2 linked regions of the Homo sapiens genome follow. The protein of the gene in region 2 purifies or fractionates together with the protein of the main gene of each other region. This does not show direct contact. Each region holds a gene or a part of one and is shown on either strand. Other genes may lie near its edges.

The links. Proteins that work in one complex are often made in the same cells at the same time.
Region 1: the proteins of POTEA (region 2) and VPS9D1 purify together in Homo sapiens (affinity purification with mass spectrometry; one large-scale study listed by BioGRID and IntAct). This does not show direct contact.

The regions. Positions count from the first base shown.
Region 1 is NC_000016.10:89,713,946-89,718,830, forward strand, and holds part of VPS9D1 (VPS9 domain-containing protein 1), read right to left. Parts: intron 4,578-4,885; exon of another isoform or gene 4,574-4,577; coding exon of another isoform or gene 4,501-4,573; intron 4,221-4,500; exon of another isoform or gene 3,399-4,220; intron 2,960-3,398; exon of another isoform or gene 2,878-2,959; coding exon 2,785-2,877; exon of another isoform or gene 2,680-2,784; coding exon 2,517-2,679; intron 1-2,516.
Region 2 is NC_000008.11:43,336,938-43,341,822, reverse strand, and holds part of POTEA (POTE ankyrin domain family member A), read right to left. Parts: intron 1-4,885.

The DNA of each region.
Region 1 (4,885 bases), on a different chromosome or scaffold from region 2:
TTTTTTTTTTTGAGTCAGTCTCATTCTGTCGCCCAGGCTGGAGTGCAGTGACACAATCTCAACTCACTGCAACCTCCGCCTCCTGGGTTCAAGTGATTCTCCTGCCTCAGCCTCCCGAGTAGCTGGGATTACAGGCATGTGACACCACGCCCAGCTAATTTTTGTATTTTTTAGTAGAGATGGGGTTTCATCATGTTGGCCAGGCTGATCTCGAACTCCTGACCTCAGGTAATCTGCCCGCCTTGGCCTTCCAAAGTGCTGGGATTACAGGCGGGAGCCACTGCGCCCAGCCTTGCAATTTTTTTTTTTAAGCTCATCGGCTGTTGTTAGTGTTAGCGTATTTTATGTGTGGCCCAAGACAATTCTTCCAGTGTGGCCCAGGGAAGGCAAAAGATTGGACACCCCTGCTTTAAAGGCACTATGTGGGTCAAACAGCCAGATTAGTCTGTGACCCATGAAAGGAAGAAGTGTCCTGTCTCCTTTATACAGTTCCCAACAGCCACTCCACCTTGAAAGCTTTGTTCCCTCGTACCTTCCCACTGTCAGGGACAATGGAGGACAAGGAGGAAAGTCAGAGCCTGACGCCTGGCCACCCTGCCCTGAAGCCACATTGCAGAAACAAGGGGACTGGGAAGCCAGGCCCCGCCAGAGCAGGGGCAGGAGGAGTGGACCCTTCTCGTCTCTCCCACTTGGGAGTCACTGGGCTTTTTGCATTTGTGTCTTTGTATCTTTCATCAGTTCTAGACAACTGTCTGCCATTCTAACTTCTAATAATGCCTCTCTCCCATTTTCTTTCTTCTTTTTTTTTGAGCCGGAGTCTCGCTCTGTTGCTAGGCTGGAGTGCAGTGGCACGATCTTGGCTCACTGCAACCTCCACCTCCTGGGTTCAAGCGATTCTCCTGCCTCAGCCTCCCAAGTAGCTGGGGTTACAGGCACGCGCCACCATGCCCAGCTAAGTTTTGTATTTTTAGTAGAGATGGGGTTTCACCATGTTAGCCAGGCTGGTCTTGAACTCCTGACCTTGTGATCTGCCTGCCTTGGCCTCCCTCCCATTTTCTTTCTGGAACTCCAACGAACACGTTAGGCTTTCCATCTCTTGTTTTCTGTCTTTATTTTTTGTTTCTGTAATTCATTCTAGCTATCTTTTGACCTTTTTTCCAATACATGAATTTGCTCTTCAGCTATATCTGCTCTGCTGTTATAAACTTGTCTGCTCAGTTTTGTATGTATGGATTTCTACATATATATAGATATATAACTCATCCTTGTTCCCAGCTAAATTTTTTTTTTTTTTTTTTTGAGATGGAGTCTTGCTCTGTCGCCCAGGCTGGAATGCAGTGGCGCAATCTCAACTCACTGCAACCTCTGCCTCCTGGGTTCAAGGGATTCTCCTGCCTCAGCCTCCTGAGTAGCTGGGACTATAGGTGCCCGCCACCACGCCCAGCTAATTTTTTGTATTTTTAGTAGAGATGGGGTTTCACCTTGTTGGCCAGGATGGTCTCGATCTCCTGACCTCATGATCCACCCACCTCGGCCTCCCAAAGTGCTGGGATTACAGGCGTGAGCCACCGCGCCCGGTCATTTTTTTTTTTTTTAGACAGAGTCTCATTTTGTTGCCCAAGCTGGAGTGCACTGGCACAATCACGGCTCACTGCACCCTCAACCTGTCAGGCTCAAGTGAGCCTCCCACCTCAGCCTCCCTAGTAGTTGGGACTACAGGGGCACACCACTATGCCTAATTTTTTTTGAGACGGAGTTTCACTCTTGTTGCCCAGGCTGGAGTGCAGTGGCACAATCTTCGCTCACTGCAACCTCCACCTTCCAGGATCAAGCGATTCTCCTGGACTCAGCCTCCTGAGTAGCTGGGATTACAGGTGCACACCACCACGGCCAGCTAATTTTTGTATTTTTAGTAAAGACGGGGTTTTACCATGTTGGCCAGGCTGGTCAGGAACTCCTGACCTCAGGTGATCTGCTCGCCTCGGCCTCCTACAGTGCTGGGATTACAGGCGTGAGCCACCAGGCCGCCTGCATTTGCTTGTGTCCGGCCAGGGGATATTCCCATTCTGGGACTCATTTTAAAAACATTCGCTGTCAGGCCAGGCGCAGTGGCTCATGCCTGTAATCCCAGCACTGTGGGGGCCGGGCGCGGTGACTCACGCTGTAATCCCAGCACTGTGGGAGGCCGAGGCAGGCGCATCACGAGGTCAGGAGATCGAAACCATCCTGGCTAACATGGCAAAACCCCGTCTCTACTAAAAATACAAAAAATTAGCTGGGTGTGGTGGTGGGCGCCTGTAGTCTCAGCTACTTGGGAGGCTGAGGCAGAAGAATGGTGTGAACCCGGGAGGTGGAGGTTGCCGTGAGCCAAGATTGAGCCGCTGCACTCCAGCCTGGGTGACAGAGTGAGACTCTGTCTCAAAAAACAAAAAAAAAATCGCTGTCATCAGCTCATCTTTCTCAGCCTCAAAAACCCAATCCCAGGCTCATCCCACCTCCCATCTTGTCCATCTTACTTCTTACAGCTTTGTGACTCTGCCCCCTGAAGCTTCTGGAAGATCTCGGGTGGCAGAAAAGGAGAGAGCTTTCCTCCTTCATCGGAGTATACACGGCGGTGTCGGCCGGCAGGCTGGGGAATGGGAGCAGCTGCAGGCATGGTTGGCTTCAGGCGTGTTTTCCCTGCAAGCCATGGGTAACCAGGGGTCAAGCGGTGGGCCACATCCCACAGAGGAGATGCGGGCTTGGGGGATGCCCCAGGAGAGCCGCCTACTGCAGGAGACCCACCAAGCTTGGCGGCCGTCGACTGGGCCCTCTCCAGACACTGCTGTGCTAGCTTCAGCATCTTGGAGGTGTCGGGGGGCACAGTTTCCCCAGCTTCTGGGGGAGGGACAAGAAGGCTGGTCACAGTCGGCTCTACCACTGTTACTTACTGCTGAGATAAAATGAGGCAACGGAAAAGGCAGGCAAGCCCACTGCCCCCCTCAGCACCCCCACTGACCCCGGGCAAGCCCACTGCCCCCCCATCCCCTCACTGACCCTGGGCAAGCCCACTGCCCCCCCATCCCCTCACCCCGGGTAAGCCCACTGCCCCTCCCGTCCCCCAACTGACTGACCCTAGGCAAGCCCACTGCCCCCCCATCCCCTCACCCCGGGTAAGCCCACTGCCCCTTCCACCCCCCACTGACCCCGGGCAAGCCGACTATTCCTCATGGACCCCAGGCAAGGCCCCTGCCCCCACCATGGACCCCAGGCAAGTCCCCCCACCCACGCATTTCTAATCATCTGCCCTGGTTTTGCCTCCTGAGTCTGCTAAGGCTGTGGGCCCCTCATCGAGGCCCGTCACAGCCTCGACCCTAAACAGGCCTTTAGTGCTCACTCAGCTTCACTTGCAACTGCAGGCCTCTGGGAAGTGGCCGTTTTACAGAGACAAGGACGTGCTGAGGGGATCGCCTCACCCATCTCCCACCGGCTGTGTCCCCAAAGTCCTGCCTTCCCGTAGCTTGGCATGGAGCACCTCTGCGCGACCATGGACCTGCTCACACAGCCCTTCTGCGCGCCGTGGGAGCTGCCTCTCTGTGACTCGCCCCTGGACCCACCGCCCCAGCGCCTGACCCACCTCCCTGCTGCCCTTCACAGAAAACTTCTCATAGACTCCCATTTTCTCATCCCGCCCCGATTTAGCCCCCGACTCCCCCCGGAAACTGCCCTTACCCGTCCCCACCTTGCCAGACACGGTGGGCCACTGGAGTTCCTCTGTCTTCTGGGACTTTGCTCTCCCCAGGGGATCCTCTGCCACTCCTCCACCCAACTCCTCAATCTTGGAGCGCCAGAGCTCAGCCGAGCTCACCGGCTCCCTAGGGAGCTGGGGCAACTGTTAGCTCCCCCTGACCTGTGTGATCCTACGTCCAGTGGCTGCCCCGACCTCTGTGATCCCACGTCCAGGGGCTCCCCCGACCTCTGTGATCCCACGTCCAGTGGCTCCCCCGACCTCTGTGCTCCCACGTCCAGTGGCTCCCCCGACCTCTGTGCTCCCACGTCCAGTGGCTCCCCCGACCTCTGTGCTCCCACGTCCAGTGGGTCCCCCTGACCTCTGTGATCCCACGTCCAGTGGCTCCCCCTGACCTCTGTGCTCTATGTCCAGTGGCTCCCCCTGACCTCTGTGATCCTTTGTGCAGCGGCTGCTGGCCTCTCAAACTTAATGTGTTCATTGCGGAACTTGCTATTCCTCTCCTTGCCAGTTTGCTCCTGCCCCATCTGCCTCCTGCAAGTCTGCTCTGTTCCACCTTCAGGACGCACCCCGAGGCCGTTTACTGCTCCCATCCTGGGTGGTCTGGCCACTGCCATCCTCAGTCCTCACCTGAGGCTCCACTCCCAGGCTGTCCTCTCCCTCAAAGCTCAAAGTCTCTTCAAGTTTCCCTGCACACCAGAACGGCCCCAGTTCCACCCAAGGCATGCACACAGCCCCACCCCGCCCACTCCTATTTCAGGGCCTTTGCACACCCCACAGCTGGAATGCTGCCCCACGTCTGTGCCGCTCACTGGAGCCAGTGTCTTGCCACACCCCAGTCTCCATCTTCTTATCCACAACGCTGGTCCCTTCCTGCCACTATATCACACTGAGTGTGGGCTGGTCCACCTACTACAAATGGTCAGGCTAGAAGGATACAAGAGACCCCCGCCGAAGCCTGGCACCCATCAAGGGCTAGGATGCCCACAATTTGTCCAGCATGGAGGAAGCAGCAGGGCTCAGCCATGCCTTTTTCTTTTTCTTTTCTTTTTTTTTTTTTTGAGACGGAGTTTCGCTCTTGTTCCAGGCTGGAGTACAATGGGGTGATCTCGGCTCACTGCAACCTCTGCTCCCGGGTTCAAGCAATTCTCCTGCCTC
Region 2 (4,885 bases):
CCAAATCTATTATTTTATTATATAAAATCTCGGCATTTATAAGTTATTTATTCTATCCATTAAGTGTTCAGGTCATTTTTTAACAGGTAATGTAAATATAACTATTTTCCACATGGGGAATTAAACTATAAACAGAAAGAGTAACATTAAGGGAGAAAGAAAATATGATAATAATAATATCATTACAAAGAATTGAATTTAGATCAAGCTTTCTGACAGTCAAGGCAAAAGGAAAAACATGTTACTGATATTATGTGATAGAAAGACATATACCAGGACTTCTCATTGCTGTCCTTTTCAATAAAAACAAGCTTTTACTGGCACTGAAACCTATTTGGAAAACATTATTTATGTTCTTATGTGAGGGGAACCCTTTTTTAAATGATAATATTAGCTTTTTCAGGACTTATTATGCAGACACTATGCATCATTCTAAGCACTGTGCATGTGTCAAGCTCATTTTAATCATCATAACAATTCTTTGAGGTAGGTAATATTAGGGCTTCTATAAAGAAAGAAACTAGGCCCAGAAAGGCCATATAAATTTTCCCAGCCCATAGAGCTGGTCAGTAATTGACACAGCATTGAAATCCAAGAATTCTCCCTCCAAAACATGTGTTTTGCAATATGCTGTGAAGGTAATATTTATATTCAAGTGTTTTTAAGAGATATGATAGCAGACAAATCCATATTATCATTCTGTTTTTGGCTATAACTAAAAATTTCTGATTATCATTCTGTTTTTGGCTATAACTAATAATTTCTGAATCCTGCACTTTTTTTTCACCTTTTGAAAATTGCAGTGTCTTTTTTTTATATATACATACTTTAAGTTTAGGGTACATGTGCATAACGTGCAGGTTTGTTACATATGTATACATGTGCCATGTTGGTGTGCTGCACCCATTAACTCATCATTTAGCATTAGGTATATCTCCTAATGCTATCCCTCCCCCCTCCCCCCACCCCACAACAGTCCCTGGTATGTGATATTCCCCTTCCTGTGTCCATGTGTTCTCATTGTTCAATTCCCACCTATGAGTGAGAACATGAATCCTGCACTTTTTTAAAAAATAAAGACTTTATACAGAGGCAAGTTTGGAAACCTACTACTTTCAAAAAACTAAAAATTAGTTTTTAAAAGAAATTTATCAATGTCATTCATTTATTTCTTCAACTGTTTATTCATGCATTCAACAAATACTCATTGAGCATACAATATATGCTGATAACATTGCTGGCCCAGGAAAATATGGCTTTGATGCTTTAGGAGTTTATAATCCTGAAGTAATAATCTGCAATAGATTGTCAATAGTTTGCTTTTCTCAACTTCATGAACAAAATCCTTCCCTACTCCCCAGAATCTAAACAATCATAAAGTTGATACACCTGATATTTTAGAGTAAGTACCTAAGCAAATCATGGCTATTCATGATGCTACTGTCAAAGGTAGTGCAAGATGTGCAATTATGAAGGAACATTTAAATTCTATTCAGCATGGCCTAAGTGTGTGAATGTTTATTATAATTCTTTTTAAAAATCTGTGTATGACAGTTTAAGTTTTAGGTCATCATCGGCATGTACAGTTACACTAACATGTTACACTTCTGAACCAATTCTGAAAAAACAACTCTAATCATAAAACTATACATGAATAGAAGTTCTAAGGGCAATTAGTTTGCTAAAAATCCATAAAAGATAATGAATCAAGCTGTCTAATGCTTAGACATGCAACCAAGCAAACAAAATTACCTTTCATAACCATGTTCTTCTCTTATGGATCATTCCCAACAGTAAAAAATAAACTCTAAAAATTTCTGTTTTGAAACACAAAGAGAGAAAACTCCCTCAAATCCCACACTCTTTTTTAATTATTGCCCATTTCTATATTGCCTTTCCCAGCAAATTTTCTCTCAAGAGTTGTCTACATTCATCCACTACAGATTTCCATGGCTATCATTTGTTGAAACTTCTCCTAGTCAAAGTCACTAATCCTTATTATAATCAATCTTTCAACAGCACTGATACAGTTGAGTATTTCCAGTTTGAGGAGACTATATTATTCTAGTTCCAGGAAAAGTAATTGGTGTTAACGTTCTTTCCTAGAGATTTATTTTCTTTTCTTTCTTTTTTGTTCTTTCTTTTTTTTTTTTTTTTTGACTTTAAAATTTTTTTAACCTTAAGTTCTGGGATACATGTGCAGAACGTGCAGGTTTGTTACAAAGGTATACATGTGCCATGGTCATTTGCTTCACCTATCAACCTGTCATCTAGGTTTTAAGTCCTGCATGCACTAGGTATTTGTCCTAATGCTCTCCCTCCCCTTGCTCCCTCACCCCCAGGCAGGCCCCAGTGTGTGATGTTCCCCTCCCTATGTCCATGTGCTCTTATTGTCCAACTCCCACTTGTGAGTGAGAATATGCAGTGTTTGGTTTTCTGTTCCCATGTTAGTTTGCTGAGAATGATAGTTTCTCACTTCATCCATGTCCCTGCAAAGGACATGAACTCATTCTTTTTTATGGCTGAACAGTATTCCATGGATTATATTTGTCACTTTTTTTATCCAGTCTATCATTGATGGATATTTGGGTTGGTTACAAGTCTTTGCTATTGTAAATAATACCGCAATAAACTTACGTGTGCATGTGTCTTTATAGTAGCATGATTTATAATCCTTTGGGTATATACCCACTAATGGGATTGCTGGGTCAAATGGTATTTCTGGTTCTAGATCCTTGAGGAATCACCACACTGTCTTCCACAATGGTTGAACCAATTTACACTCCCACCAACAGTGTAAAAGTGTTCCTGTTTCTCCACAGGCTCACCAGCATCTGTTGTTTCCTGACTTTTTAATGATCACCATTCTAACTGGCATGAGATGGTACCTCATTGTGGCTTTGATGTGCATTTTTCTAATGATCAGTGATGATGAGCTTTTCTTCATGTTTCTTGGCCACGTAAATGTCCTCTTTTGAGATGTGTCTGCACATATCCTTTGCCCACTTTTTGAGGGGGTGTTCCCAGATATTTCTTATAAAGGACTTATAAATTTTACCTTCTTTACCATCTATTTCACTTAAACTGCTATCATCATTTACTTGTTGCAGACCATGAGTTAGTAAATTGGCCTTCTCAAATATGGGTGTAATCACAGATTATTTTGAGGTCCGTTTTTTATTTTCATGTTTCTTTCTTCATATGCAAGGCAAAAGCTCTACTTTAAAAACTCTATAAAAAGCCAATGTTTCCTAATAACTCTATTGACAATGAACAAAAAAACCACAATTTTTGTAAAACTCCAACTGTTTTCCATCTCATTGCACTGATTAATTTTTTAAATGTTTAGAACTACAAACAACATAAAAGGAAATGTGCATCCCCTGCTTCAAAAACAAGGTAATATACAATTATAATACATTGTGTTCTGTAAGAGTTGATATATTAAAAAGTTATATTTTAGCACAAGGAAGGCTTTAGAGAAGAGGCAAAATATAAGAAGGGCCCACTAGGGAAAAACAGTGAGAGAAAATCCTTCCAGTTAGAGAACAGAATGTGAGCACAAAGATTAAGCACATGAAGTCTAGATGCTTACTAAGAACTTGAAAGGAAAAGTGTAAAATACTTGGAAGCTAAGAATAGGAGATGAATCTACACTACACTTGAATGCTATATTAAAAAGCTGGAGTCCACTGAATATGAGAAATGACTGTTAAACATGAAAATCACAATTAGATTTGGGCTATATTTCTGTTTCTATTATTCAATATAATAATGTTTACCTTTAAATACAATTTCAAAAGTAGCTGTGGCACATAAAACATGAAAGACGAAATCAGGAAAATGTCTTCAGGGAGGGTGTATTAGTCCATTTTCACACTGCTATAAAGAAATACTGAAGACTGGGTAATTCATAAAGGCTAAGTTTCTCCTTGGTCCCTTTTAGCCACAGTTGGACCTGTAGTGGCTGAATGCAGGGCAGCAAGTCCTGAGGCTGCACACAGTACCAGGGCCCTGGACCCAAACCTATGAAACCATTTTTTCCTTCCAGGACTCTGGGCCTGTGATGCGAGTGGCTGCCACGAAGATCTCTGTCATGCCCTAAAGACACTTTCTCCATTTCATGGCAATTAACATTCCGCTCCTCGTTATTTATGCAAATTTCTGCAGCCAACTTGCATTCGTCCATAGAAAATGTGTTGTTTCTCTTTTCTACCAAATGGTCAGGCTACAAATTTTCCAAATTTATGCTCTGCTTCCCTTTTAAACATAAGCCCCAGCTTAAAACCATCTCTTTGTGAATGCATAAAACTGAATGCTTTCAGAATCAACCAGGTCACCTCTTGAATGCCTTGCTGCTTAGAAATTTCTTCTACCAGATAGCCTAAATCATCTCTCTCAAGTTCAAAGTTTTACAGATTGCTAGTGCAGGGGCAAAATGCTGTCAGTCTCTTTGCTAAAGCATATCAAGAGTCACCTTTGTTCCAGTCCCCAACAAGTTCCTTATCTCCACCTAAGATCACCTCAGCCTGGACTTCATTGGCCATATCACTATCAGCATTTTGGTAAAAAAAACTATTCAACAAGTCTGTAGGAAGTTCCAAACTTTCCCACATCTTCCTGTCTTCTTTTGAGCCCTCCAAACTGTTAAAACCTCTGTTACTCAGTTCCAAAGTCACTTCCACCTTTTCACATTATCTTTTTAACAATACCCCACTATCCCTGGTACCAATTCTCTGTATTAGTCCATTTTCACACTGCTACAAAGAAATATCTGAGATGGGGTAATTCATAAAGGAAAGAAGCTTAATTGATTCACAGTTACACATGGCTGGGGAGGCCTCAGAAAACTTACAATCATGGTAAGGTGAAGGGGAAGCAGACA